Linked DNA regions of Homo sapiens. The protein of the gene in region 1 interacts with the protein of each later gene in a biochemical or structural test. Each region holds a gene or a part of one and is shown in the gene's direction. Other genes may lie near its edges. The genes, in order: PAX3, POU3F2, SOX10 and RAD23B.

What was found.
Region 2: the proteins of PAX3 (region 1) and POU3F2 form a complex in vitro, tested with the Homo sapiens proteins (one study listed by IntAct).
Region 3: the proteins of PAX3 (region 1) and SOX10 form a complex in vitro, tested with the Homo sapiens proteins (2 studies listed by BioGRID and IntAct).
Region 4: the proteins of PAX3 (region 1) and RAD23B form a complex in vitro, tested with the Homo sapiens proteins (one study listed by BioGRID).

What each region holds. Positions count from the first base shown.
Region 1 is NC_000002.12:222,198,762-222,205,185, reverse strand, and holds the end of PAX3 (paired box protein Pax-3), read left to right. Parts: intron 1-2,995; coding exon 2,996-3,242; coding exon of another isoform or gene 3,243-3,262; exon of another isoform or gene 3,263-3,473; intron 3,474-3,743; coding exon 3,744-3,778; coding exon of another isoform or gene 3,779-3,782; 3' UTR 3,783-3,945; coding exon of another isoform or gene 3,946-4,012; 3' UTR 4,013-5,299; downstream 5,300-6,424. UniProt on the Homo sapiens protein: Transcription factor that may regulate cell proliferation, migration and apoptosis. Involved in neural development and myogenesis. Transcriptional activator of MITF, acting synergistically with SOX10.
Region 2 is NC_000006.12:98,828,873-98,837,573, forward strand, and holds the start of POU3F2 (POU domain, class 3, transcription factor 2), read left to right. Parts: upstream 1-5,701; 5' UTR 5,702-6,001; coding exon 6,002-7,333; 3' UTR 7,334-8,701.
Region 3 is NC_000022.11:37,974,438-37,982,249, reverse strand, and holds part of SOX10 (transcription factor SOX-10), read left to right. Parts: intron 1-4,114; coding exon 4,115-4,383; intron 4,384-7,812. UniProt on the Homo sapiens protein: Transcription factor that plays a central role in developing and mature glia.
Region 4 is NC_000009.12:107,300,060-107,307,871, forward strand, and holds part of RAD23B (UV excision repair protein RAD23 homolog B), read left to right. Parts: intron 1-81; coding exon 82-163; intron 164-1,975; coding exon 1,976-2,055; intron 2,056-6,319; coding exon 6,320-6,588; intron 6,589-7,812. UniProt on the Homo sapiens protein: Multiubiquitin chain receptor involved in modulation of proteasomal degradation. Binds to polyubiquitin chains.

The sequences.
Region 1 (6,424 bases):
ATATACTTCAAGGTCTTAAGAGTTAAATCCTTTCCTAATGAATTTTCTAACGCAGCGACTGCCAAAAGTTGCTTCATGAACAACATCATAAGCTGATTTTTGCTTATAGGAAGGACATGTTTCTTCTCTTCTAGGTCCTTCTTGAGTTCCCCCATCCCCTATAATTAGTTATTGCTGCCTTCAAAGTTATGCAAACAAAAAATGTATGGCAGGGGATTTTTTTAAAAAGTTTATCACAAAAATGTACATATAGCTCATGGGAAAGTGTGCATGTTTTGAATAAAATTCTGCTCTGAGCTCATCAAGTATAACTGTACATACAGCATTCCATTTCTCCCTTAAAGTGACATACCATTGACTGAATTTCAAGTAAGTATCTTCATGAAGGACAATATTAATTTAGAGTTTATTTTCCTTTTATTTAGTGCCACTGGATATCTTTCCTCTCTGGACTGATATAGTTACAAAATTGCTTTTTCTAAGATTTCGAATTTTGCTTAACACAACTTATTCATGGTAAAATATTTGCCCTGTGCGATTATTCCCTTTTATTAAAAAAATCACATTTTAAAGTGTTTTTATGTTCATGTCCAATCTCACCCATCAGGATCACACACGAAAATGTACTCCTGATTTGAAAGGAGTGTGTTTGGCACCAAACAACCTCTAACTTAAAGACTCTTTTCTTCTAAAAGAAATGTCTAATTTGGGCTGAAATTTCATAAATAATAAACTAGTGTATCAATTGAAGTTCATGAATTTTCCAAGTATACACTTATATAGAAATCATCTATATAAGCTCAAATAAAGGCAAAAAGAACCCATATAGATGGAAAACATATCCAGGAACTAATTTAAATGCATTCTTAGTTATGTTCAAGTTCTTTTAAGTAGTGAAATGAAGAAATTGCTATAAACAATGCTGGGTAGGGCCCTAAAAGAACCCACATTCTAGTGATTTTCCATCTTCCTGGAATTGTCAATCCTATTGATGCTTACTTTATTTTGTGACTTTCACTTTCTCCAAATCCCCAATAAAACAAAATTGGGCTCTGCCACAAATGATGTTTTGTGTGTTTTTTTTAAAAATATAACTAATTTTTAAAAATTGTAAAAAAGGATGTTTTACCACATATCTCAAAAAATCTTAGATTCCTGGGATGTCTTTCAAAATGTGGGCTTTGCTGTGTTGCTTTGCCCACACCAGCCCACCTTCCCATGTGTGTGCATAGACAATAACTCAAATGAAAGAGAGACAACAAAATGAAAAACAGGATTTCTGGGGAAGGCAGGGACATCCGTTCAAATTTTCTGTTAAAATGGAGGAAGAGTGGATAATTGATAATCCACAGAAGGTGGATCTCTTTTTCTCTGTCTTTTGGGGTCAGCTGAAGATGGATCAGCTCAGAGCTTTAGTTCAAGAAGATTTTACTTAATCATAAGGATTATGCAAACCCTTCCCAAAGGGAATTATGGGATCCTTGTTTTTGGAATCTGAGTTGAGATGCTTTCTGGGAAGCAAAACTAGACCCGCCCCCCGCCTCACCTGCCTCTCAGATTCCTGCCTTACTGGAACTCCTAGATCCGAGGTTCTATTGCCTGAATTATGAGAGTTATTCTGCAGTTAGCATGAGGGCTTATAGTCAGGGCTTGGTTGTCATTTCTGCCCTCTCCTCTTTCTCTTATTTGCACACTTTAATCTCTGTAGGCTTCACACTTCCTAAAATAAGACAGGACTGTTATGGAAATGTTGTGGAATTGTTGGATACTGCATTTAAATACTTTGTAAGTAGATGTGTCTTCGGGGGGGCTCTTGACCTGGCGTTAGATTTCTTTTGCAATTGCTTTTGAACCCTGCCACAGAAGGGTACATAGTTTAGAAAAATCGCTTCCTCTCTCGTGTGGCAGTTTTCCAGCTGCAAAATTAATTATCCACTTACTTTCACCACAAGGTGCTGTAAGGGTCAGGGATCTTGAGTTGGTGAAGCACTTCACCATGTTGATCTGAAAGTTATTCTGTCACAGGATATTTTTTTTTTTCCAAGTTGTCTTACTGTCCAGGTTATTTACAAACTGAACTTTTTAAGACCATGTTTGCATTTCAGGCTTGTCTTTCCTTTTAACACTTCATATATATATATATATATATATATATATATATATATATATATATGAAATGGTTGTTTAGAGAAGAAATAAAATAATAGGTAATGGAGGCTTTTACTTGGAGAATCATTTACATTTCATTCATTCGGCACTTAATATGTGTCAAGCATTCACTGCTTTAGGTGCTGGGATATAAAGATGAATAGATTGCTCCTCTCAAAGCTCTCACCAGTCAAAGCAGGTGACTGAACTAATGAATATACAGTGGGAGGGGTAAATAAAGTACCAGAGACCATCAGGAAAGGAGTAAATATTTCTAATTATCAAAGAATGGCCAAGATAAGGAAAGGGGCTTTCTTGAGAGGGAACACTATTTAAAAAAAAAAAGGCACAGAGATCTCAAAGTACATGAAAAATAACTTGATTTGGATTCATTTATCTTTTAAAAATATAAGCAAATGACTGTTTAAAAATCACATGTGAAACTTCCAGATATAATGTATGAATAGACATTTTTCTGTATGAACAGATACAATTTCTCCCTCTTTTCATCCTTTTTTCCCCCTTCTTTGAAATTCCAGTCTGATTTTATCACTAGGGACGTGGTGTAATCTCTCTCTTTCCTCTTCTCCTTCCTTCTTTTCCTCTTCCCCCTCTTCTCCCCTCTTCTCCCTCCCCCTTTCCTTCTTCTGCAACTGCAGTCAGATGTTATCGTCGGGCATGATGTAATATCTCTGCCACTTAGAATTGGGTTCATAGTCTCCTGGACAGCTCTTTAACCAATTTCCAAAGAAATAAAAACTGGACTGTCAAGTTATTCTTTCAGCTGTAGGCTGCAATCTGGATCTCTCTGCATTTTAACCTCTTCCCAATCTGGCTGTTTTTTTAGGTAATGGGACTCCTGACCAACCACGGTGGGGTACCTCATCAGCCCCAGACTGATTACGCGCTCTCCCCTCTCACCGGGGGTCTGGAACCTACCACCACGGTGTCGGCCAGCTGCAGTCAGAGACTAGACCATATGAAGAGCTTGGACAGTCTGCCAACATCTCAGTCCTACTGTCCACCCACCTATAGCACCACAGGCTACAGTATGGACCCTGTCACAGGCTACCAATATGGGCAGTATGGACAAAGTAAGCCTTGGACTTTTTAGGGGGCAATTTCTCCTGGAAGGGAGATAAACTCAACTCTTCCTTAAGAAAGGTGAATTAGAGGCAAGATTAAGCCACACATGCCGGTATCAATTTTTTTTTTTTTTTGCAAAGCCAGCTGACTGTTCCAGCAGGGGCTTCCTTGTGTAATTATTTTCTTAACTGATGTCAACAACATCTTGCGGTTATTAATTGTTGAGACGTGAAACCTGATTGCCACTAGGTAAAACACAAGGGTTGGCCAAAATGAAATAATCCCTGACATTAGAAACACATGTTCTTAATGAGGTCAGCTCCAGGATCATATGGGGGATAATCCCAGGGACACAAAGTTGTGTCAAACTTGTCTCAGGAATAAAAATATTAGTCTCAAGCCTTTGATAGCACGGTATTAAATATGACATTGTCAGCCTGTAGCTGATCTTGCCCCTGACTGTGAATTGTCCCAGCATGACCTAAAAAGCTGCGTGTGTTTCCTTACAGGTGCCTTTCATTATCTCAAGCCAGATATCGCGTAAGTGAACTGTCCACTTGGAGCTAAAACTGGCCCTGTTTCTGGTCTTCGCAGCCTAGATATGAAGAATCTGCTCTGAAAACAAAAAAAAATTACCCTTTTGTTGGGGGGGGTGGGGCAGTGGTCCCAATAGGAGACAAAGGAGAGTGATTGATTTTCTTCCTCCAATAGTTGGTTTCAAATCCTTTTGAACACGTTCGACAAAAGCAGTGGAGAAGAGGAAGACCTGGAGCAATAAAAGACAAATGCAACATTTTAAGGCAATGGTTTCACATGGTTACATATCAAAACATCCCAATTCTTTAGTGCTGATCATCGAGGAGCTAGAACATTCCATTTGCTTGTGTGCGTGCGTGCGTGTGTGTGTGTGTGTGTGTATTGAGATTTACCCAGACTGGTTTGGGCAAGCAGACTGTTCTAAAATATAATAGAATACCCTAAAGTATAACATGTCGATGTTCGATGCTGATACTTCTACAACTTTAAAACTGCTCATTTCATGAAGCAAGAATGGAGGAATCCTTGACTCTTACACACTGGAAATTGAAATAAAGATAAATGCAACCATTTTTAGGAAGCTAGACTAGCTGTAAAGGACCTCCTAAATAAATTATTTGTTACTGTATCCTCATTTGTAATCTAGTTGTCAATAAATGGCCCGGACATGTCTTGCTAACAGGATATGGGCTACCAGGAAGAAGGACTTGTTTCCCTTTCCTGTGTGGGGAGAGGTGTGTGACGTTTTTCCAGTTCACATTTATTTGGTAGCCCACCTGGGTTGGAGGAAGGGCACGGTGGAGAGAAAGTGACATGCATTCACATATCTGCTTATCAGTGTGCAATACTGTGTACCTCATGGATGCTTTGGCAATGCCCAAGGCGATATAAGCAAAATCAGAAGTATATTTTTGCAGGTGCTTTTATTTTCACAGCCCATAATTCATAGTGATAGAGTGCAGTGATGTTTGCCATTTGCTGGACAACCAACACCCGGGTTGCTCCTTTGATTAGAGACCAGATCAGATAATTATGCTTTTAAACTGATTACGTTTACATTCTTCTCTTTTCTATGAAAGGCAGGGCAAGAACAGAAGTGTTCACATGGCTCTCATGTACTTTTAAATTATACAATGATATCCAATATTAAAAGATTATAGGAACTGAGGTTTACATACGTTTGTGTGGTGACATTTTAGAATGTCAATAAATTTGCTTTTTGAGATGTTGAGAGGAACAAGAAGGTGGAAGGCAGTGTTATTTATTTCTTTCTATTCTTGGAACCACGAATGAGGTAGGCACAAATACATTCCTTTTAGAGTTAAGAACTATGACGTAGCGAGTTAGTGAGACTAGACATAGTACCGAATTTAGTTCATGCATTGGTCTTAGAGGGTGATGGAACAAGAGAAGTACTATCTTTGTGTTGCAGCCTCAACCAACAACAATGTGTTGTAAAAATGTCTTTCATGTAAAAAGTGCAGTAAATATTTACTATTTATAATGAATAAACAGTTATGAAAACTTGCCCACTACTGCTTTTTTGGGGGAACTGGTGAATGTAGTATAAATGAAAACTTGGCAATGGGGAGCCCAATGTACATGAACTTCACTTCTGGTGGACCCTTTCTATGAGAGTATTCTGTCGACAAATAAGGTTACACAACCCACAGTTGTATTCTCTTGAAGAAGCTTGGTTGAACACACTTTTAAGGATTGAAGTTTATGTTTTTATCAGTGTAGCATCTAGAAAAACCCTTCAGTTTAGCTTCCTTCATCTTTCTTTGGTTCTCTCAGAGTTATCCAGTCCCTTTACTGTCACTTAGAGATATGTTTTCCCTGGAGTACCCGGTTCCATCTTCATCTCTAAGTCATCTCCACGGAAATTTTTATTTAAAACTCTCATATTTTATTTATTTTATTTTAGCAGCCTACTTTATTCTTCATGAAAGGTATTACTGCGTACTTCATTCATTCTTCCTTTCTTCCTTCTCCTTCCCTCCCTCTCCTGATCCTTTCTCCTCTCCCTCCCTCCTTCCCTTCTTCCTGAATGTATTTAATGAGAGTCCAAATGTGCCAGGCATGGTGATTGGCACTTGTGTTATAGCGGTGCTTGTAGCCTAGTAGAGAAGGCAGAGAAGTAAATGCATAGTTTCAATAAAGTGTGAGGACTGTTATTTTAGAAGGAATAATCATAATACCTTTTGAAGCTCTTACTTGTATTAACTTATTTATTACTCTCCACATGTCACATGCAGCAAGTGATGTCACTACCATTCCTTTTGTACAGATGAGAAAACTGAGGCTCAAGGAACTTACATGAATCACTCAGTGGCAGAGCTAGGATTTGAACCTAGTACAATCTCAGTGCCCAAGGTGTTTAAACTCATGCTCTTCTGCTTCCTCAAGACTGGTGTGAGAGAACCTTACAGTCAGGAAGATCTAAAAGGGTGCTGTCCAATTCAGAAGCTACTAGCCATGTATCCCTATTTAAATTTAAAGAAACAAAAGTACATAAAATGACAAAATTAGTTCCTAAGTTGCACTAGCCACATTTCAAGTGTGCGATAGTCACACGAGGCCAGAAGCTGCCATACTGGGGATTGTTGCTGTGGGACATTCCACATCACAGGAAAGTTGACTGGTCAGCTGA
Region 2 (8,701 bases), on another chromosome or scaffold:
CGTCCTCCCGGACACTAACGACACAATTGTTAAGTGCACTTGTACACTTCAGAAGGATTTGCATTCGTGCTGTGTGCAGGCAGAATAAGAGAACTGAAGTCCAACTTCAACCAAATACGCCTGTTTATCCCAGGGCTGGAGCAACAGCCCTAGCCCTTGAAAATGGCTTCAGTGAAATAGCTGAGTACACCCTCCTCCCACTTCCCCAGTCCGCCTCTGTGCGCAGGTGTATGTTAGTGCACTCGTCCCTAGCTTGCCTTCCTCTTCGAAAATTGCTCCAGAGGATGAGAGAAGCCAGGAGCTCTAGCAAGAGCTTCATCCCAGTACATTTCCAAATGCTTTAGAGCTAAGGAGGTTTCTGTTGAAATCACTTTAATTTATCAAAGAGTTGTCATCCCCTACTGGTGGCCAGCCATCCACCTGCTTTAAGGCTAGGGGGAGAAAATGCGAGCGTGCCTGTGTGTGCGTGTGCGCGCACACACACGCGCGCGCACACACACACACAGACACCTTTAGGCTCCATTGTTAAGAGGTCATTTAACTGTTAGTCCTTTGAAAGTGAAATTGCGGGAAGCAAACTGGAAGCCACCAATTGTCTCCTGTTCTGTTTCTGAGATTTTTGTTCTGTTTCTGAGATTTCGTATAAACAAGCTATATTAACTCCTCCAAACAGAATTTATCTTATACACCGACGGAATGCTTCCTTTATGTTTTCTCCCTCCTAAGGCCTCATATTCACCGCTCAGGATTTAGCAGGCTTCCTTTGATAAATTACTCAAAGTAATCCTTGAAACAGCTAGACTATCTGGGTGACATGGTGTTAGATGTCTTCAAGCCATCCCTGTATATAAAATATTCACTTGCAGACTACAAAGGGGGGACTGTTTTAATGATAAAATTTATAACTTGAAGAAAAAGGGAAAGATATTAGTATCTATAAATACAGATAATTTTATTTCAAATACTGAATTAAGGACATTATATTTCACTGGTTTACACAGTAGTGAAGGTAAAATAGAATTGTTTGTATGTGAGGTATGGACAGAGTTGCCAAGCATATGACGTAGGAGAGTTTCAACTTTCAGAAAACTTTTCATTCTTCAAGACCTTTTATTACACAAGGACAGATGCACATTTAGGAATTTGCAAAATATAGGTATAGACAGTAACATACAAATTTATTGGAAGCTTTATTTCTTCAGGAAAAAATATGCTGCTGCATAATTAAAGATAGTAAGTTCTATCCTTTTTTTTTTTTTTTTTTTTTTGGTAAATGTTTATTATGTCTCTCCCAAGAACCAGCAACTTGGAAATGCATTTTCCATGTTCCTTATAAATGCATCCCCCAAGGCTAAAGTTCTTGAAGCTTTATAGCAGTTTTCATTAAAGCAGCCAGCTGCCTTTTTGTGTGGATTGGCTGTTCAAAGCTCTAGCTCCGAAGCCAGAGCCTCAGTTTTGACATTCTGCAGGCCCTTAGAAAAGAAGTTCCACTCAGAGGTTGGAGGGGGGCCTCACCAAATCAAACAGCTGCTGGGGTCTAGCAGAAGAGCAGGAAGCACAGGAATGAATGACTGAGACAAGGCTTTTTAAAAAGAGGAGGAGGAGTAGGGACGTTCAAACATGATCCTCTAAGGTGGATATAAGAAAAAGGAAACAGCAGTTTCTTTTTCTAGTTTTACTTAGGTTTAAACCAGCTGCTACCTCCACTCCCCCAATGGCCATCTCCTCAGAAAATTCTTTGTTTTCTTTTGTTTCCTGATTTCTATTATCCTGGGACTACATAAATAAGAAAAAATTAAGATCAAATGAATACCATTTCACCTCTGTTTTAGTAATTGTGTGCCTCCAGCTCAATGTATGGGAGTGGTCACGGTGGGTTTTCTGCCAACTCCTGGTATATAGAAATAAATAAATGCTATTTTATATATGGTGTGAGTGTGTTTACTAGATGAAATAGTTAATAAATTAGAGTTCAAGTTACAGTGCATGGACTGACCCCATAACTGTTACTCAGGTGGAAATTTGGGAGGTTTGTGTCAAGGTACTGGGTGCTACTAAGACCCAGGTCCGGCTCACTATCTCGAGGAGTGTGAAAGTGTGAGAGATAACATGGGTGTCTTTTTGGTGTAGTTCTGTTATTCGAGGATGTTTCCCCTCCACTCAGCGCACCCCGGCAAGAGGGAGTCGGCTCCGTTTCTTCAGACAAGTCCAGCTCAGGGTATTGACTGAGTAGAGGTTCCTCCGGACCTGGGAGAAGCTGGGGTGGCGCCAGCATCTCCTTACAGGTGCCTCCATCCTGTCCTTGCGGAAGGGGCTTAGGACACCCCGCAGTCCGCGCCCCGAGGTGGCGAGGCCCGCACGAATCGCCTGCTCAGCCATTGTCCTAGCGAGTGATCTCGAGGAGCTGTGCTGGATGGAGTGAGGGAGATATCAAGACACCTTGTCAGTTCAAAGCATTTTAGCGTTGTTTGAAATCCTCTCCACGTCAACGTAAGCAGCCTGTGTATTTGAACAGCTGCTTTGAACAGTGAAAGGGAATAAACTGATTCAAAACCTGGAGGTGTCTGCCCGAGACACCTTCAACGTGCTTTTATGCGGGCGGAGAATGGCAGGCAGACGCGCGGACTCTGCCCTGACAGGGTCAGCCCAAAGAATGGGCCCCAGAGCCCGGGGCGGGGGAGGAACCGGTGGAGAGGCCCCAGTCTGGACCTAAAACCAGCGAGAGCTCAGGTTTCGGGAGCCCCGAAGAGGTGCCGCGCTGGGAGGCAGACAAGGAAGCCCAGGGTGCTCGGAACCCGGCGTTCGCGCCAACCGGGCCCCTGGCGCCTGGAGGGGAGGCGGCGGTAGCTCGTGGGGAGGTGTTGCTCAGAGCCGCGGTGCGAGCCCAGCCTGGCCCGCCCGGTGATTGGCCGCGCTTGGGGGTGGGGGTGGGGTGCAGAGACTGAGGCCCCGGGTAGGCTATTTCTTTGTGTACTCCCGGGGATTTATTGGGTATATTAAACCCTGTTGGGAACGTTTCGGCTCCTTGGCCGCCAGCGAAATGAGACGGGGATGGAAGTTGGAGTTGAGACCTGGGAAGTCAACGTGGGAAGGATCTCAGCATTAATCGCCGGTGATGTCCTATCGCAGACAGGAAGTTTTGATGTACACGTGCAGCCTATTCTTGTCCCCTCACACTAGCGCCCTATGCCGGGAGGAGGGCGGGGGTGTGGGGTGGGGTGTGGAGAGAAAGATAAGAGGAGGAGGAACTTTTAAATTGATTCAGAGCCAGGCCGCCTCAGTTCCTTCGAAGATGTGTTTGAAAACTTCATTCTTCTTTCGAGTGTATCATCCTATGGGCTGCAGAAGGCCTTGTGCCTCGAGAAATGTGAAATTAAATCCAGAGAAAAGCAGACACCTGCCCCAGAAAGGTGGGGGAGAAGTATGAGCTGCTTAGCACTTGGACGCGGCCCTTCCCCAGGGCTGGATTCTTCTGTCCGTGGGAGCTCTGAGCTCCAGGTCCGCGAAAAGAAAGGCACGACATGTCAGGAGAAGATGCGGCTGGCGGGCTGTCTGTGCGCTCCCCAAGGCCCAGGGAAAGTCACGCGCCTAGCACAGGGGACGCAGGGCCGAAGCCGGGAGAAGGCGGTTCTGCCCGCCACCCAGCCCCTTGGCTCGCGGTTGCGGAGCCGCGGGCACCAGTCGCTGAGTCTGCGCGCTGAGGCTCGGACTTGTTCATTTTTTCCTAGCTAGACAAAGTTATGGGATTCCTAGCAGCCCCCAGGCGCGCGGCCAGAGTGGCCCCGCGCTTGCGCTGGGACGGAGCGACACGCTGTGTGTGTCCTCGCCTCGCCTCGCCGCGCGGGTGCGCGCGTGGTGGGGGTGCAGGTCCGTCCTGCTGGCGGCCTGTGGGCTCGCCCCTCCCCTATCCATTTCTCTCCCCCACACACGCTCATAAACACAGGACACGTGGAAATTCTCAGCCAAAGCGTCTTGCCCGGGCGGGTGCTCAACGTGGTGATTTATAAACAGCTCAGCCACTCTCCAAAGAGCATGACTCCTTGTTAGTCATGATGAATTTTCTGGCCCGCTCCAGTCTGCTGTCTGGATTCAGATGCTCAGAGGCCCCAAAATGCTCCCTCTGAGCGTTGATTTGGCTGCCCTCTCAAGCCTACGACCGCCGGCAAAACCAGCGATAGAGCGAGGGGTGAGAGGTGGGGACGCGATCCAGGTTCCCTGGGGTCTGTCATTCCCTTCCCGGCAGTAACTGTTGATTCGCTTTACAGCGCCCATGTACACACCCGGCCCTGCGTGGCGGTCACGCCGCTCCAGCCTGGGTCCGCGCCCAAGTTCTAGCTACCGGGCTTGCAGGCTCGGAAACTCGCAGGCGGCACCTGCTCTGGGCGGCTAAAGAACTGATGGCGCGACGCGCCCGCGCTCCGTAGAGCGGCGCTGCGGGTGCATGGTCCCATAGTCTTGCTCTGGAGTTCACTGCTGAAAGCTGAGCTGGGAGCTTGGCCAGGGAGCGCCAAAGACATAGACTAACCCCACCCGCTAGCGCCCACCGAAGTTACTGATTAGGAAGGTTCCCCTGGCATCAGCCCATTTGCTTCACACACTCTTCCTCCTTCCCAAGGGGCTAACGGAAAAGTTGCACCTACCAGCGGTAGGAGCACGGGGAATCGCGCACGCAGGCCCTCCGCGCGGCTTCCCGGAGCGGCCTTTGGCGACTGCGCCGCCCCTACAAGGCCGCACACCCCTCGCCAGCACTCCGGCAGCCTCGCACAAGACGGAGCCCACGCAGGCTTCTAGTTTTCTAAACCAAAAACTGCACGCGCCGGCGTGTGAATCTGACGGAGAGACTTTTAGAGTTTTGTTTGGTTTTCAGTTCAGACCGCTACGCTGTCAGAGCAAGCAACTCCGAGCCTTGATGGGAATGACTTACAAGCCGCGGTGCGGGCTGAGCCTGCCTCTCTCGGGGTTCTTTCCCCAAGGGAGTGGGAGACAATTGGGCCTGGAACCTAAAAGGAAGAGAGCCTGTGCTAGCCGCGGGGTAGAGGGGAAGGAGAAGAGCTTTGGGCCGAAGTGTCCGCACACCCTGGAGCAAGAGACACTTGTGCACTGAAATTCTAACCGTGGGATGCAAGGAGAGTTGAACAGGGGAACAGGTCTGGCTCTTGGCTCTAGGTTTAAGAGATACACACTGTGTGTGTGTCCCTAGGTGAATAAAAATCCGACTCCCGCTGGCTCGGTGCGACCCAGCTTTTCCCTTACCCCCTCCGTTTCCCCATCTTAAAGCCCTATTGGGAAACGAAAGTGGACACCACTGCCTCCCGCCCCCCACCCCAATCCAAGTCTTCCAAGTGTCTGTGGCCGATAAGAGCACCGGGACCGCCCCCCTGCCGGTCTTCTCTGCCTGGGAGACAGATGGGGGGCGGGGCCCATCCGAGAGAGGGCGGAGGAGGCCCCGGGTGAGGAAGAAGCGGGGGGGTGAGAACTGAGAGAATCTGAATCGGGAGGCGAAGGGGACGGGGAGGAGGGCTAGGAGGACTCCGAGCCCGGGGGAGGGGGAGGGAGTAGCTCTGCGCCAATCAGTGGCGCCGGCCTGGGAGGTTGCTAGCGGTATCCACGTAAATCAAAGGGCGCGGAGCCAATGGGAGGGGGCGGAGGGGGCGGGGCCCAGGCGCGTGCCGCTGCGAGCCGGCGCTGCCAAGAGAGCGGGAGAGAGCTGGAGAGAGCAGGGAGAGGGGGGAGCGCCGAGCTAGTCAGAGAGTGAGCGAGAGCGAGAAGGAGGGAGAGGAGGAGAAAGAGAGCGAGGGCGGGCGGGAGGCGGCGGCGGCGGCAGCAGCAGCAGTAATAGCAGGAGCAGCAACAGAAGGCGTCGGAGCGGGCGTCGGAGCTGCCCGCTGTGGGAGAGAGAGGAGACAGAAAGAGCGAGCGAGGAGAGGGAGCCCGAGGCGAAAAAGTAACTGTCAAATGCGCGGCTCCTTTAACCGGAGCGCTCAGTCCGGCTCCGAGAGTCATGGCGACCGCAGCGTCTAACCACTACAGCCTGCTCACCTCCAGCGCCTCCATCGTGCACGCCGAGCCGCCCGGCGGCATGCAGCAGGGCGCGGGGGGCTACCGCGAAGCGCAGAGCCTGGTGCAGGGCGACTACGGCGCTCTGCAGAGCAACGGACACCCGCTCAGCCACGCTCACCAGTGGATCACCGCGCTGTCCCACGGCGGCGGCGGCGGGGGCGGTGGCGGCGGCGGGGGGGGCGGGGGCGGCGGCGGGGGCGGCGGCGACGGCTCCCCGTGGTCCACCAGCCCCCTGGGCCAGCCGGACATCAAGCCCTCGGTGGTGGTGCAGCAGGGCGGCCGCGGAGACGAGCTGCACGGGCCAGGCGCCCTGCAGCAGCAGCATCAGCAGCAGCAACAGCAACAGCAGCAGCAACAGCAGCAACAGCAGCAGCAGCAGCAGCAACAGCGGCCGCCGCATCTGGTGCACCACGCCGCTAACCACCACCCGGGACCCGGGGCATGGCGGAGCGCGGCGGCTGCAGCGCACCTCCCACCCTCCATGGGAGCGTCCAACGGCGGCTTGCTCTACTCGCAGCCCAGCTTCACGGTGAACGGCATGCTGGGCGCCGGCGGGCAGCCGGCCGGTCTGCACCACCACGGCCTGCGGGACGCGCACGACGAGCCACACCATGCCGACCACCACCCGCACCCGCACTCGCACCCACACCAGCAGCCGCCGCCCCCGCCGCCCCCGCAGGGTCCGCCTGGCCACCCAGGCGCGCACCACGACCCGCACTCGGACGAGGACACGCCGACCTCGGACGACCTGGAGCAGTTCGCCAAGCAGTTCAAGCAGCGGCGGATCAAACTGGGATTTACCCAAGCGGACGTGGGGCTGGCTCTGGGCACCCTGTATGGCAACGTGTTCTCGCAGACCACCATCTGCAGGTTTGAGGCCCTGCAGCTGAGCTTCAAGAACATGTGCAAGCTGAAGCCTTTGTTGAACAAGTGGTTGGAGGAGGCGGACTCGTCCTCGGGCAGCCCCACGAGCATAGACAAGATCGCAGCGCAAGGGCGCAAGCGGAAAAAGCGGACCTCCATCGAGGTGAGCGTCAAGGGGGCTCTGGAGAGCCATTTCCTCAAATGCCCCAAGCCCTCGGCCCAGGAGATCACCTCCCTCGCGGACAGCTTACAGCTGGAGAAGGAGGTGGTGAGAGTTTGGTTTTGTAACAGGAGACAGAAAGAGAAAAGGATGACCCCTCCCGGAGGGACTCTGCCGGGCGCCGAGGATGTGTACGGGGGGAGTAGGGACACTCCACCACACCACGGGGTGCAGACGCCCGTCCAGTGAACTCGAGCTGGGGGAGGGGCAGAGCGCGGGGCTCCCCCTCCCCTTCGGTCCTTGGCCCTTTCCCGGCCCTCTTGTTCCCTCTCTAACTTCTGATTGTTCTTTTATTTTTAATTATTATTTCCCCGTCCCTTAAAAAGACAAAAAAAATAAGGCAAAAGGAAAGCAACTAAGACACTGGACTATCCTTTAAAGGTAGCAGGTGTAATGATGTGTTTTGACCTTTGCAGGCGAGTAACCAGGCAATGGAGTGGAGTGTCTCCTGGAGAGAGTGAGGAGAGTGTGTGATAGCTAGAAAGAGAGAGAGACAGAGAGATGGCAAGCACTGAGATAAATACCTGGCAAAACTAAATAAATTACCAAAAAGGAAAAAAAATCCACCAAACCATGATAAACACAAAATGCAGCTTCCTGATGCTTAGAGTTGGCACATGCTGCTGTGTTTATTTATTGTGGATTCCCATCAGGAAAGAGGAAAAAATACACATGTTCTTTCATATAGGCAAAATTTAACCACATAAATTTGCACTGCAAGAAAATTGAAGTTTACGTGAACAAATTCATGAGCATATTTTCTCTTTCTCCCCACCGTTAATTTGGGAGTTGCCGTTTTGGGGGATTTTGTTTTGCTTTGCTTTATTCATCGGAGAGAGTTGAAGCCAGCTCTTGGCCACTCTCCATTTCTAATGTTCTTGTGTTGCCCCTTCTTCGTACTGTTTGTGAACTTTGGTTACCTTCACATTCCCCTTACGAGGGTGTAACATCTATTTGTTCCTCTTACCAAAGCAAAAGGATTGGCTTCATACAAAATAGACAATTCTCTGATTTCAGGAAATGTGCATGGTCTACCCGCTTTATCGAAGGCAAGAATCCGGTTTGGAATATAAAAATAAGCATTGGTTGTTCTTACCAGCCACAAAGTAAACTTCATTTTCAGGCAGTGTTTCTGGGGGAGGTTATGGAGGGAAGAAAAAAGAAAAATCGATAGTGAGTGACTGATTGCTTCATTTTATCAGGCGGGCCCATTGTGAAAGAGCTCAGGGGAAATGTGGAGGTTAAATATATTTCCAGAGTTGTCCAGCAGAAAGAAAGTGGCACTTTGAAGAGAACTAGGGAAGTACATATCTTCAGATATCCCTATATAGTTCTCTACCTTCAGTTTTAGTAACAATTATGAAGAATTATTTGTGCTGACAGCAGCAGTTAAACTTTGTTTCTCTAATAGCTTTTTTTTTACATAAAAAAAGACCCAGGAACTTAATAGTGTATGCATAAGACTGTGTTTTTTAGCACACAGATACCCACAGCATACACTGACGATCTCCACGCAGTAGACAGGTTTTGTCTTCACTAGCTCATTTGTTTATCAAG
Region 3 (7,812 bases), on another chromosome or scaffold:
GAGCCAGGGCCAGAACCCAGGACTCCCATACTCTCTGTCCAGAGGACTTCCCCTGACCCTGGTGACAGTGGTGGATCACCTACACTTTGAGGAGTGGTCAGGAGGTTGGGGGGAAGCAAGAAGATGAGAACAAGAGTGAGGAGCATCTGGGTTCCAGAAAATTAGGGCTTTGTCAGAGGAGCCCGGCTCTCTTCCGCTGCCCTCCCCCTTGCCAGCCACAGTTGGGTAGAGATTGGGTCTAGAGGCTTAGAGTGGTAGAAGGTGCAGGAGGATCTCCAAGAGACCAAAAGATTCACATCCCGCCCCCTGGCCTGTTCTTGCCATGTGTTTGCTGAAGACCTGGTGCCCCTTCCCCTGCCCCTTCTCAGCCCTCAGTGCCCTGCTCACCCAGGGCAGGCCCAGGGCTCAGCGACCAGCCCGCTGTGTGGACCCAGACAGCCCAGTTCTGCCCAAGAGCAGAGGTCACAGCTAGCTCCTCCACCCAAGGTCCATCCAGATCTGGGTGGGGCTTGGCCCAGGCCAGTATCTTTAGTGCCAGGGGACAAAGAGCAAGTGAGAAACAGACAACCAGGAGAGACATACAGATAGGGCAGACTCTGGGGACCATGAGAAGACCACAGTACGAGCCCAACGAGAGTCAAAGCAAGGACGGACCTCATTTTCCCTCCATCTCCCATTGCCAAGGGTTTAAGATTGGCTCCTCCATTGTCCCTGTCCCCAGGTTCCCCCAGCCCAGAACCCTGGGCTTGGACTCCCTTCAGGAGGACTTATTCTTGGCCATCACTCAAGCTGTGTGCACAGGGGCCAGCCTGAGGTGTGGCAGTCAGGAAAACTGGCACTACTTGCTGAGGACCCAATCCCAATGGGAGGATGGGGCCAGAACCATGGCAAGGATCAAAGGCAATGCCAACAGAGGGTGGCTCCCTGGACCCTGGAGGGGGGTCCTGAGAGACATTTGGATTTGGGCTGGGCTGGCCAATTGCTCCAGGGGCTTCTCCTGAAACCTCCCCAAGCTGTGACTCCTGGGATGTCAAGAAGTGGGGTGGTTAGGTAGGCAGAGCTGGAAAACAGGTGTCTTAAAACCAAAAAGAGAAAGATACACACAGACTGTGTGGAGTGCCCCAAGGGAGTGTGGGATCAGACACACTGGAGCCCAGGTCCTAAGGGGCCGTGTCAGCCCCAACAGTCATTCTAACCTTTGATGCCCATCTGGGGAGGGGCTAGTTGAGGCTGATCACAGGGTGGTGCCTGTGGGTTGGCTGATCTGCCTGGAAAGAACCAGAGCCAAGAAACTGGAAAGGCGGACACAGGCAAGAGTCCCTCCTGTGTGGTGGGGGTCACCCAGCCTCTGTTCCCAGTGCCACAGGCCCCTTCCCCAAGTAGTCTTCTTATGCCCCTGGCCTAGCAGGACACAGGTAGCAGCAATCAGTGCCCCACTGTGGGAGGTCCCCGGTTGGGGTTTCCAGTTTGGGTGAGGAATCAGCCTACCTCTTCTTGCCCCCATTCCAAACCTGGGAGACCAGGGAGAAAGAGGGCTGACAGGAAGGTGCAGATGAGGACTGGGTTTGGAGTTAGAGCTGGAGGCGAAGTTGGGGGTTTGGGGCTGGTAATGTTGAGTGGGGACTGGTGCTGGAGATTGGGTTTACATGGTGGGCAGGCTGGGCTTGGGGTTGGGGTGGAGGTGGAATCAGCTGTCCGGCACAGCTGGTGGAGGAGGGAGCTGGGGTCGGGGATGGCAGTGGCCCCAGGCTTAGATTTCTGTCAGGGTTAGGCTAATGCTGGGAACTAGCTTAGGAGGTAGCAGCGGAATCCGATGTTGGAATCCTCTCTCTCTTCTGGCCCCTGTCACTTTCTTGCTGATGCTGGCTGCCAGCTGGGCAGGGGGCAAGGGAAGGATAGGTGAAAGAGTGAGCTCTGTGTCCCATGTCCCCAGCCATCCCAGAAGCCCCTCTGTTGGGGTCCACTGCTGGCGGAGCAGCTCTCTCCTCTGTGGGTTCTCCCCAGTCACACCCTCAAGGCCTGCTCCACCCCCTCCCCTGGTCCCAGCCGTCAGAGAGGGTGCCCACATCCCACTCCCTGACTCTCAAGGCCCTGCTCCGGCATCTTTGTCCTAAGTGTGTACACTGACTCTGACAGAGTCTCGGCTGGAGGGACCCTCTGAGAAAGCTGGGGCTAGGGCTGGGCTCAGGGCCGGGGTGGGGGGAGTAGACAGGGAGGCTAAGCCGCAGAGGAATGCTGCTGCCGGCTAGGAGGTGCCTGGCATGACCACCCCCGCCCAGCCTGGGGAGGGAGGGCTCGGCCTTCTGCTGACTGGGGGAAGAGGGCACTCACTGGGGTGTGAGGGGTGGGGCAGCTGAAGAGACAAGCCCTCTGGACTGACAGACAAGGCTGCTCCCACAAAGACTCATGGATTCTCAGTACCAAGGTCTGGGATTCTAGAATCTGGACTTTCCCCTCGACCCCCTCTGTAAGGTACCCCATCCTGCCCTCCTCACCCTGGGGCAGCCAAACCCTAAATGCCCTCCACCCTCCAACCCTGGCCTAAGGCTGGAGTCGGTGGCAAGGGCGCTGGCTTCAGGGCTTCTTCTCTCCATGTGTTGGTTTCAGGGACTGTTCCAGGGTCTGAGGAGAGGCTAGCTTCCTCTACTCTCTGCTATTTTCTGGACAAGGATATAGGATCCCCCACAGGAGGCAGTACCCCCCACCCAGACCCATGGTAAAGAGGAGCCACATCTGCCCCCTCAGTCCCACCACACTGGAATTCACACAATCAGGACCCAGAGTTAAGAGTCCAACCCTAGATCCTCCTGTCCAACCACCCCCGCAAGCAGCATTAGAAAAGCACCTCTTGGGGCCGGGCACGGTGGCTCATGCCTATAATCTCAGCACTTTGGGAGGCCAAGGCGGGTGGATCACCTGAGGTCAGGAGTTGGAGACCAGCCTGGCCAATATGGTGAAACCTCGTCTCTACTAAAAATACAAAAATTAGCCAGGCATGGTGGTGCGTGCCTGTAGTCCCAGCTACCCGGGAGGCTGAGGCAGGAGAATCGCTTGAACTCAGGAAGCCGAGATTGCAGTGAGCTGAGACCGCATCACGGCACTCCAGCCTGGGCGACAGAGTGAGACTCTGTCTCTAAATAAATAAAAAATTAAAAATAGAAAAGTACCTCTTGGGCTGGGCACAATGGCTCATGCCTGTAATCCCAGCACTTTGGAAGGCCAAGGCAGGCGGATCAACTAAGGTCAGGAGTTGGAGACCAGCCTGGTCAACATGGTGAAACCCCATCTCTACTAAAAATACAAAAATTAACCGGGCGTGGTGGCGCATGCTTGTAATCCCAGCTACTTGGGAGGCTGAGGCACAAGAATCACTTGAACCTGGGAGGCAGAGGTTGCAGTGAGCTGAGATCATACCACTGAGCTCTAGCATGGGTGACAGAGTGAGATTCCCTCACAGAAAAAAAAAAGAAAGAAAGAAAAGCACCTCTTCCTCAAGGTGCTCAGCCCGCTTCCCAGGCCCTGGTGCAAGGCATCTCACATCCATTATTCTGGCCAATCCCACACCCAAGTTAAGCCAATGTTATCATCCTTTTATAGGTGAAGAAACTCAGGCTCAGAGAAGTAATTTGCTCAAGGTCACACACACAGCTAGTAAGTAGCAGAGACTGAGTTCTCCCCCAGCCATGCTGCTTCTATTGCCCACCCTCAGTCCCAGGGAGCTCACCCCCACTGAAGTAGCCAATTCCACTTGCAGACAGCTTTGATGATGAGAAAGTTTTTCCTTTCCTTGAACTGGCATCTGCCCCTTGAAACCTCTACTCCTACTTCTAACTCCTCCTCAGGGGCTGCCAGGAGCAGCGGGCTGACCCCTCTCTCACCCTCCAGCCCATGAAAGATTTGGGGGCAGCCCTCTGAGGCTGTTATTCCTTGGGCCTCACATCTCTCAGTCCACAAATCATAGGGCACAGCCCCCACCCCGGGTCCTGTCCTCTGGGTGCCCCATCCCAGGGCCTCACATCTTCCAAGATGGACACTCAGAGGGAGGCCAACCTGGAGTGCTCTGGCATTCACGCCAGCCCCTCTGCTGTCCTCTCCGCCTCCCACCACACCCCAGGCTGCTGAACGAAAGTGACAAGCGCCCCTTCATCGAGGAGGCTGAGCGGCTCCGTATGCAGCACAAGAAAGACCACCCGGACTACAAGTACCAGCCCAGGCGGCGGAAGAACGGGAAGGCCGCCCAGGGCGAGGCGGAGTGCCCCGGTGGGGAGGCCGAGCAAGGTGGGACCGCCGCCATCCAGGCCCACTACAAGAGCGCCCACTTGGACCACCGGCACCCAGGAGAGGGCTCCCCCATGTCAGATGGGAACCCCGAGCACCCCTCAGGTGAGTGCTGATGACAGAGCTGAGGGTGGGGCAAGGCCAGTCAGTGGAGACAGGAGATGGCTGGATGGCAATGAGACCCTGGACTCTAGGGAGAGCGTGCCAGGCTGTGCAGTTGCCCCAGCAGAGCTGCAGGGGCCCAGAGGGAGCTCCATGGGGGTTCCGGTGCCAGGGGAAGTGGCTGGGTGAGATGGCTCTGGCCAGGGCTGATCCTACTGGGCAAAGAGGGCCAGTTAAAGACTGTGGAGGCCGCCGGGTGTGGTGGCTCACACCTGTAATCCCAGCACTTTGGGAGGCCGAGGAGGGCAGATCACGAGGTCAGGAGATCGAGACCATCCTGGCTAACATGGTGAAATCCCATCTCTACTAAAAATAAAAAAAATTAGCTGGGCGTGGTGGCGAGCACCTGTAGTCCCAGCTACTCAGGAGGCTGAGGCAGGAGGATGGCGTGAACCCAGGAGGCGGAGCTTGCAGTGAGCCGGGATCGCGCCACTGCACTCCAGCCTGGGCGACAGAGCGAGACTCTGTCTCAAAGAGAAAGAAAAAAAAAAAGACTCTGTGGAGGTCATGGAGTGAGAGGTGGCTGGGGCAGTTACAAGTAAAGGGGGAGAAGACAGGATGGTTTTGAGAAATGGAAGAGCAAATGGAGGAGAGGAAATCACTGCCTCTTTCCCACCAGCCATTCTTTTTTTTTTTTTTCTGGAGACAGAGTCTCACTCTGTCGCCCAGGCTAGACTGCAGTGGCATGATCTCGGTGCACTGCAACCTTTTCCTCCCGGGTTCAAGCAATTCTCCTGTCTCAGCCTCCCAAGTAGCTGGGACTACAGGTGCACACCGCCACGTCTGGCTCATTTTGTGTATTTTAGCAGAGACAGGGTTTCACTATATTGCCCAGGCCCAGTCTCAAACTCCTGAGCTCAGGCAATCTGCCCGCCTCGGCCTCCCAAATCCCACCAGCCATTCTGACAGAGGAGACATGGCATGTGATACCGTGTCTGGCCATGGATGGGCCAGACATAAGCTATCTTGTTTAATTTTCATTAATGATAATAACAGCTAACCTTAATTGAGCAGCTACTCTGTTCCAGGCACTGTGCTAGGTGCTAGTTGCCTTATGTATACTAACTCAATCCTTGCAAACAATGTGATGAGGTACCCAAACTGCCTGGGCTCAGATCTCAGCTGTGGCAAGTTACTCTCATTTTACTGATGAGAAACAAACAGGAACTTCCCCAGTTTGGCTCCCGGGCATCTGCTTGGCACCACAGCTGCCTTGCCTGTGTTCCTAATGTACAGAAAGTGACACACACAGGTCTGCCACATGGGAAGTGCTCAGTGAGCAGAGCTCTGCCTTCAGAGGACACGCTCTGAGTCCTACTTTGTGTCAAACACTGGAGTGGACACCAGGGGTACTAACCAGAGAAGCCTACAGTCCCTGGCCTCAGGGGCCCATAGTCTAGAGAGAGGAGCAGGGATGAAAACGAGTGAATTAAGTACAGGAAGAAACAAAGCTAGGCATGGTGGAATGCGCCCGCAGTCCCAGCTACACAGGAGGCTGAGGTGGGAGGATCACCTGAGCCCATGAGTTTGAGACCAGCATGGGCAATGTAGTAAGACTCTGTCTTTTTTTTGTTTTTGTTTTTGTTTGAGATGGAGTCTTGCTCTGTTGCCCAGGCTGCAGTGCAGCGGTGCCATCTTGGTTCACTGCAACGTCTGCCTCCTGGGTTTAAGCGATTCTTGTGCCTCAGCCTCCTAAGTAGCTGGGATTACAGATGCACGCCACCACACCCAGCTAATTATTGTATTTTTAGTAGAGATGGTTTTTCACCGTGTTGGCCAGGCTGGTCTCGAATTCCTGACCTCAGCCTCCCAAAGTGCTGGGATTACAGGCATGACCCAGCACGCCCAGCCTCCTATCTCTTACTATATATATAGTATATATATAGAGAGAGAAACAAGTGCACAAGAAGTCTGTGTGAGATCCAGAGGTGGCATGGCCGTCTATCCCATCCAGTCAGGTCTCCAAGAACACCCCACTGCCCACCAGACTCTTGTCAAGGAAGGCTTCCAGAAAGAGGCAATGCCTGGGCTGCTTGGTACAATCTCTATTTTACTGATAAGGAAACTAGTTAAGAGAAGACTGGGGATTTGTCCAGACACAGAACCAGGATTCAAAAGCCTAGGCAGGTCTCTTGAAGTACAGAGCCCTTGGCCAATGCAGGACTTGGCGCTGCCTCTGGTCTGATGAAGGAGGCACAGGCCTGTCCTTGGGGAGCTCCTAGTCTCTTAAGACCATGGACATGTTCTGTCTCCATTGGGATGCCAGGCAGTCATCCCTCCCACACACGTGTACATACTCTTCACCTTCAAAGATTCAGGGACACACACACACACATCAGGAGACCCTGGACCACATACAGAGCAACCACCTCAGAATGAAACTGGACACAGACTTTTTCTCACCCTTCAAGGCCCCACCCCACTCAGACATCCTTCCCTGATCAAACCTTCCCCAAATCCCTGAGGCAGCGGGTGGACTCCTCCTCTGGTCTCCCAAGTCCTTGCATATTGTCACCACAGCACTTCCAACTCTGGGTGCATGTGGATCTATGGATCTATGACTAGACTATGAGCTTTTGGGAACAGGGATCCATTTTATTTACATTAGTATCCCCAGCACCTGGCACAGTACCTGGCATTTTGTAATGCTCCCTAAGAGTTTGCTAAATTAATATGTGAATAGGAAAGTGAACAGACAAAGGAACAAGGACCAGTTTTCTAAGTGCCCTCCCATGGAGGAAGGCAGCTCAAAGAACAACAGGGCAACACAGGCCAGCGTATGACGGGGCTAAGGGCTTGCCAGTGGGCTGGGAAGCAGGGTGGGCTCAGGAGGAGGGAAGGGTTGGAAAGGACACAACATGAGGCCAGGACAGGGAGCAGGCCCAGGCAACCAGCAAAGGTGAAACAGAGCACTCAGGAGCCTGGGCGAGCGAGGCTCAGCAAGGAAGACAGTAGGCATGGGTGTGGAAGCGGGGCTGGCAGAGCGCAAAGGCTGGGCCAGACCACCTGGACAGCAGAGAAGCTGATGAGAGGAAGAACTTTCCACAGGAAAGGTTTTTTCAGAATGAGGCAGGCCTCCCCAGGACCCATCCCTAAGATTTGAGAATTTCATAAACAACTAGAGATCAATCTAAGACACCAGTATTTAAACAAATGCTGTGGGGCGCAGTGGCTCATGATGGTAATCCCAGCACTTTGGGAGGCCGAGGCAGGTGGATCACCTGAGGTCAGGAGTTCAAGACAACCCTGGCCAACATGGTGAAACCCCGTCTCTACTAAAAATACACAAATTAGCTGGGCATTGTGGTGGGCGCTTGTAATTCCAGCTACTCAGGAGGCTGAGGCAGGAGAATCATTTGAACCCAGGAGGCA
Region 4 (7,812 bases), on another chromosome or scaffold:
GTCTTCCATTATTTATTCAGATTCTGGATTGTCATTTTTTATTTAGACTTTTTCCAAAACAAATCTTTATTTTTCCTATAGGTGAAAGCACTGAAAGAGAAGATTGAATCTGAAAAGGGGAAAGATGCCTTTCCAGTAGCAGGTCAAAAATTAATTTATGCAGGTATGAATTAAATATTAAAATTAACATGCCATGTCTTGATATTCTTTTAGTTTTAGAAATGTTATCTTATATATTGTAGTATATTCAAATTGTCAGAAAAATGATTGTACAAATAAAAGCAGTGAAAGAGCAGTCATTTGAATCTAATATTAATATTCAATCTTCTCTTTATTCACATTTGCCCTGTGTATTTTTCCATCAAATGGTATTAGTTTTGTTTTATCTTTTGTAAGCATCGTGTAACTGGCTTTTGTTTTTTTAATCAAACGGAGCTTTTTTTTTTAAATTGAATTGAAACCATTTATACTGATTGTGTTATTATTAGTATGCTTGGAATCATTCCTGTAAAATTATTTTAACCAAAACTAACTGAAGAGTACAGAAAAAACACATCACACAGACACCTACAGGAAGAAAAAAAATTAATATTCAGATTATGTAAAGAATTCTTAGAAATCAGTAAGGAAAGGATGACCAATAAAGCAACAAAGGATAAGAGTAGGAATTATACATTTGACTAGCCTCACTAATAACCAGGAAAATGTATATTAAAAATACATTTGATATCCAAATTTTTAGAGAAAATGCTTTCATTGTAGATGTTAGTAAGGTGGGTGTTTGATCACCCATGGATTCTTCTCTTTTTCTGAATAGTGTTTCCTAAAGTGAGACAGCCTGGAGGAAATGCTAACCTGGTGATTCAGTCCCATTATTTTTATAGGTCAGAATTCAGAAGCCTAAAGAAGCGGACATAAAATTCAAATTTCCAGTTTCTTGTTTTGGCCTGTTTTCTCATTCCTATCCATATTCCTTTCTGACTTAATGTTAGCAGCTTTTGATTCAATAGCTTTTTAAAGGTGGAAAACTAAATTCATGTAGCAAGAAACACTAGAGAGTCCTAGCTACCTAATAGTGACCTTCAGCACGACCACAGTTTTGTGTACTTCGTGCATTTCTAAGTTCTGTAGCATCTTGCCCTTTCTTGTGTATCATGTCGTTTTCTGAAGTACTTTTAGTATCTTGCTTTGATAGTGTTAGAACATTTCTGATTTATCAGATATCAGTATTTTGGGGAGCAGGAAATTTGTTTCTCTCCCTTTCTTCATATCATAAAAGAATATAGGTTATTTTCCAGAGGACCCCTGTGCAATCGGAGTATTGAATTTTCTTTATCTTCATGATCTCCTCCTTTTCAGGGCCTCTTTCATATTTCCTTGCCCAGTAAGTCTTTTATATAATCAATACATTTGTAAAAATTGATTGTCATTCTATATACACTATATAAGTTTGACATCTTTTAGTCAAATGCTTATGCTTTTTAGTTTTATTTGTTTGAGAGAGGGTCTTGCTCTGTCACCCAAGCTGGAGTGCAGTGGTGTGATTATACTCGCTGTATCCTTGAACTCCTGAGCTCAGGTGATCCTCCTGCCTCAGCCTCCCAAGTAGCTAGGACCATAGGCATGTGCCACAATGCCTGGCTAATTTTGAATTTTTTTTTTTCATAAACAGGGTCTTGCTATGTTGGCCATGCTGGTTTCAAACTCCTGGCCTCAAGCTATATTTCCTCCTCAGCCTACCAAAGTGTTGGGATTACAGGTGTGAGCCACCATGCCCTGCCACTTAGGAGTTGTTTTATTTTTATCTTGATTGATTGGTTTTTCTTTGGGAAAAGTATTAACTGATAGAATTTATGTTGGTGATTCATATTTTAATATTTCTGAAATATTCATATTTCGAGTAGAAAGTTGTTTTAACTGAAGTGTAAGAGAAAGATTATGCCTTAAATGATTTTTTTTTCTCTTAATGTATTAGGCAAAATCCTCAATGATGATACTGCTCTCAAAGAATATAAAATTGATGAGAAAAACTTTGTGGTGGTTATGGTGACCAAAGTAAGTTTCAACCTCATTCTGTATATCTTTATGCATGTAGGTCTTTTTAAAAATGATGATCACAAGTCCACACAATGGACACAGTTTATACACATCCATAGTGGTGTACACTTAACTACTATGAAAGGTTTTTAAGAATTTACCTTAAGTGAAACATAAAGTTATTAATGTTTTACATTAATTACACATTAAACTATAATATAGTTTTAATAAAATTTTATGTAAATTAAAACAATTGAAAAATAAAATGTCATGTTAAAATTATTTTTGCTACAGTAGTGAAATCATTATATAATTCTTTTAAAATGTCTTTATAAGTGGAATAAATGTTTATTCTGTAGTTTTTGTAAGCTTGCCTTAAATAGACCTGCTAAATTACGTACTAGTCCTAACAGATTCCTCAAGACAGAAAAGGCATGAAAGCTTATTATTACAGTGATAGTTCTTAGTGAAAGAATATGTTTTTAGAAACTAAAAAAAGGGAAAAGATAACTAAAGAAATGATGGAATGATTTTTATGAGGAAGTTTTTTTTGTTTTTGTTTTGTTTTTTTTTTTTTGAGACGGAGTCTCGCTCTGTTGCCCAGGCTGGAGCGCAGTGACGCTGTCTTGGCTCACTACAAGCTCTGTCTCCCGGGTTCATGCCATTCTCCTGCCTCAGCCTCCCTAGTAGCTGGGACTACAGGCGCATGCCACCACGCCCGGCTAATTTTTTTGTATTTTTAGTAGAGACAGGGTTTCACCGTGTTAGCCAGGATGGTCTCGATTTCCTGACCTCGTGATCCGCCCGCCTCGGCCTCCCAAAGTGCTGGGATTACAGGCGTGAGCCACCGCGCCCAGCCTGGAAGTTTTAAACAGATACTTTTTTGTGATTTAGTAGGCTGGAATGTATTTGGAACAATTTATAAAATTAAATTTTTTTTAAAGCAGAGAATGAACATGGATTTTTTTAAGAGACTATTTATATACTTGTTTATTTAAAGATATATAATGCAGTGTAGAATTAAGAGACAAATGGAGAAGTGGTACTCATGACATTCATTTTTAGGATTGGATTGTCATAATCTGAGAAAGAACAGTGTTACTTGTAGCACTGAAAATGAGTTTAAATCACTAATTGAAACCACTTCATCAAAGGCCAAAAGTGGATTAAATGTGGGTTTTTTCTCAAAGTCACAAAATAGTTAATAGTAATAGAAAATAGAGTCGAAGAAATAAATTCTAATTACCACATGCTTTTGTACTGGGAGCAAGCAGCTAAATAGTTTACAAGTGTTGAACATTTTTTAATTCATTAAGAACCATGTTGATTTTGCTATACTTAAGAACTTAAGTCATTATATGTTAAGTTTAAAAACAAGCAGAATCGTGAGGAAACCTTGTATCATCTAGGTTTTTTTATTCAACTGTGGTAAAATATAACAAACTTCCAGTTTAATCATTTTAAGTGTACAGTTCAATAACATTATAGTTACATTGTTTTGCAGCTATCACCATCATATAAGTGGAATCCTATGGTATTTGTCTTTTTGTGACTGGCTTATTTCACTTAGCATAATGTCATTGAGGTTCATCTGTCTATGTTATAGCTTGTGCCAGAATTTGCTGAACTTTTAAGACTGAATACTATCCTATTTTCCTATCTAGTTTTAGCATACATAGTACATAATGGGAAATGTGATAGCCACACATTTAAATATGTTTTGTTACTGGTCTTAGTTTCTTTTAATATTACAGTGATCCTGACTGTTTAGAACACAAGAATTAAGCAGAAAAAGTCTCAATAGGTGCGTGTGTTTGAGGAATAGATACTTGAAGCCTATCATTATATTGCATACAGTCCTTTTGTTTTTCCTTAAAGTCTTTTATTCCTAATATTACATAGGATTCTAATGATATTTATGATTGTTTTATTTGAAGTTAATAGAGGACAACTATGAAAAGGGAGGGAATGCTGCTACAGTAAGGCATTATGGAAGCACTGAGAAATGACCTTATTAATACAAAGAAGGGAAAGGAAAAAGCTATTAAGATCAAAAGCAAGAATAAAAACTAAAAAGCAGAGAAGGGCTTGGTACTGTTTAGAATAAAGTATAAGTAGCTGTTCTTGGCAGTAGGAACCTTGAAGGGAAGTTACATTGCAATATTATTTTGATAACAATTAAGGAAAATATTAAATGAGTATACCACTTTTAAAAATACATTTTTATCTAGATTGGTTATTATAAAGTTTTGGTGCTTAAGACTCTAAATTTTCACCTTTGTGAAGCTCCAGTTTATCCAGAATAACTGAAGATCCAGAATGATCTCAGGATTTCAGCTCATTTTAGTTTTAGAACAGTAATAATCTGCAGAATATTATATTGGCTGTTAAGAAAGTTAAGCTAAATAGGAAAAGAAGGGAGTAATGCTACTAGTATTTTTTAAAAACCTATCACCTTTCACTAACCTTTTTCCTAGTGTCTTCTTTATTAGTTCAAATCAAAAAGACAAGGCAGCTCATTGGTTTTAGAGTTTGTTTATGCCTGTGGCAAATTATGTTGAATTTAAGCCTTGTCTTCCACTAAAACAGCTACCTTTTGTCCTTGGGAAAGTTATGAACTAAACAGGTAGCGAGCATTGAGAGGCCTTAGGAGAAGACTAAAAATCATGTATGATTTTTACACATGTACAGTTGACCCTTGAACACCACTGAGCTTAGGAGTGCTGGCCTCTCCCCTACAGTCAGAAATCTGCATATACCTTTTGACTTGCCCAAAACTTACCTACTAATAGCCTACTCTTGACCAGAAGCCTTACTGATAACGTAAACAGTGGATTAATACATGTTTTATATGTTACATGTATGATATACTGTATTAAAGTAAGCTAGAGAAACTATTAAGAAAATCATGGCCAGGTGTGGTGGCTGATGCCTGTAATCCCATCGCCTTGGGAGGCCAAGGTGGGCGGATCGCTTGAGCTCAGGTGTTGGAGACCTGTCTGGGTAACATGGCGAAACCTTGTCTCTACAAAAAAAAAAAATACAAAAATTTAGCAGGGAGTGGTAGTGTGAGCCCGTAGTCCCAGCTACCTGGTGTTGGGGGCGGGGGCAGTGGCTGAGGCAGGAGCCTTGGGAGGTTGAGGCTGCAGTGAGCTGTGATCATACCACTGCACTCCAGTCTGGGCGATAGAGTGAGAACCTCTCTCAAAAAGAAACAAAAGAAAATCACGAGAGAGAATATTTTTAGTGTTCATTAAGTGTAAGTGGATCATCATAAAGGTCTTCATCCTTGTCTTCACACTGAATAGGCTGAGAAAGAGAAAGGGTTGGTATTGCGGTCTCAAGGTGGCAGAGATGGAGGAGGTAGAAGGAGAGGCAGGCACACTCAGTGTAACTTATATTGAAAAAAATTATCATGTAAGTGGACCCAGTGCAGTTCAAACCCTTGTTGTTCAAGGGTCAACTAATTGTTTTTTTGCTCTGTGGGAAGCTTTATGGCTCTATTTCCAGTTCAGAAAGTGCTGAGCGTGTGGAGGTAACTTAATTTGGCCTTTATTTTTCTGCTTAATTACATATATGTCTGAAAGTATTGTGAACCTTTTTGTACTTGGATCTGTTGATTTGTAGTCAATTTTGGGATTTTCCTCCCTCTTCTAAAAATACAGTACAACAGAATATTTGACATGTTTATAAATAAACATTTATACTGCCATTTCAAGAACATTATTTTGGGCTGGATGTAGTAGTTTATGCCTGTAATCCTAGCGCTTTGGGAGCCCGTGGTGGGAGGATTGCTTCAGGCCCGGAGTTCAAGACCAGCCTGGGCAAGGTAGCAAGACCCTGTCTTTAAAATTAAAGAAAATTATTTTATTAATGCTTTTAAGTGGTATTAGGTACCTTAAAGTTACAACTTAGGTACATAAAGTTTTTTTGGGAAAATGATACGGTTTATATCTATATATATATATATATATATCTATATATCTATATATATTTCAAATTTTTTATTTTATATTAACTTGATATGAAGATGGAAATTGTTGGGTAAAATTAATTGTGGTTGATAGTTAAGATTAACATACGCTGTCATGAGCTTTGAAAGAGTAACCATGAGTCAGATTGTTAATATTGATCATTTATTGTGTCATTTTACAAAATTATTTTCAAGTTATAGGTTGTTATTAGTGCTATGTTTGTGGCATCCTGTAACGGTACAGTCTAATTAGAGATCAGGCAGTATGTAGTATTTTATTGTAATTATTTTGTCTTTTAATGTGTTTAGCCCAAAGCAGTGTCCACACCAGCACCAGCTACAACTCAGCAGTCAGCTCCTGCCAGCACTACAGCAGTTACTTCCTCCACCACCACAACTGTGGCTCAGGCTCCAACCCCTGTCCCTGCCTTGGCCCCCACTTCCACACCTGCATCCATCACTCCAGCATCAGCGACAGCATCTTCTGAACCTGCACCTGCTAGTGCAGCTAAACAAGAGAAGCCTGCAGAAAAGCCAGCAGAGACACCAGTGGCTACTAGCCCAACAGCAACTGACAGGTAGGAACTGGATTCTAGGACATTCTATCTCAAAATCCGTGTTTAACAGGAACTTCATGCATTTATTTTGATTATTGTTTTGATCAAACCGACTATATCTATTACGTTAAGCTTTTTTTAAATGTTTGACTAAAACATATGCTGCGTCTGTTTTGATAGCTTACTAAGGAGAATATAAGTACAAATTTTCATAATCAGATTTCTGTACTCTGTTGATTTGGGCAGGGTGGGGGGCAGTGGAAAGGAGAAAGCAGGTGAAAGTCATTTTTTTTTTTTTGAGTAGAAACGTTAGGAAATACAAATAACCAAAATGAATAAGGATTACATCATGACATTGCCACCCTGATCATCATTTGTACTTGATCTGTATTCTTTGTGGTCATTGTCATATATATCATAAGCATCCTTCCATGTTAGTAAATCTTTCCCGTAGTTATATAGCATTGTGTTTGGTTCTGACATTTGTTAGCTCTTGTAACCTGAACCTATGGACTATTTCAGTTTTTCACTGTTGTATCTGTATCTTTGTGAACTTGTGAGAAATTCAGGCTTCTGCCTGTGTGGATCTTTAGGGGAAAAAAAAGGAAAAGAGTGTTGAGATATTTGAGGAGCAAGAAATAATTTCTTGTGGGAAGTTGACAGCAGAGACACCTCAACTAAGTGGCTGCTTAGGCAGTTAGGATTATTGAGCAGTTTAAGACAAGACTTTTGTTTTTCTCCCCAGACGATCAGGTAAAATGACCAAAGCAAATGCTTAAGTCAGAGTTCTCTTGGTTGGAAATCATACAGCACAATTCCTTGATCTAAGAGCATGAGTTATATTATGACCAGCCTTCACTGGCACTACAGCTGTTTGTATTTTGTGACTTAGTGCAACTCAGGACCTCAGAGGCAGTAGTTATATGATCTTTGGAGTCAGAATCAGACACAGTGGAAAACTATGCAGTGACTGGAAGGGTTTACAGACATGGAAAGGGGTTAAGATATATATGACAATGATCAGAAAGATATAGTTGTGATCCTTCATTTTAGTGTTCTGCCTTTGAGTGTGGTTTCTGTGTCTGACTTAGTCAACCATGTTTGGAGGAGTCTGAGCCACCTGGTTCATTGCTTACTTGGGGGTCTCTTTCTAAATAATTGATTCCCTAAGAAGACAACATGGGTTTAGGCAATAGAATATTTGCCCTGTTACTTGCCTAGAACACTGCTTTAAGCATTCTATGA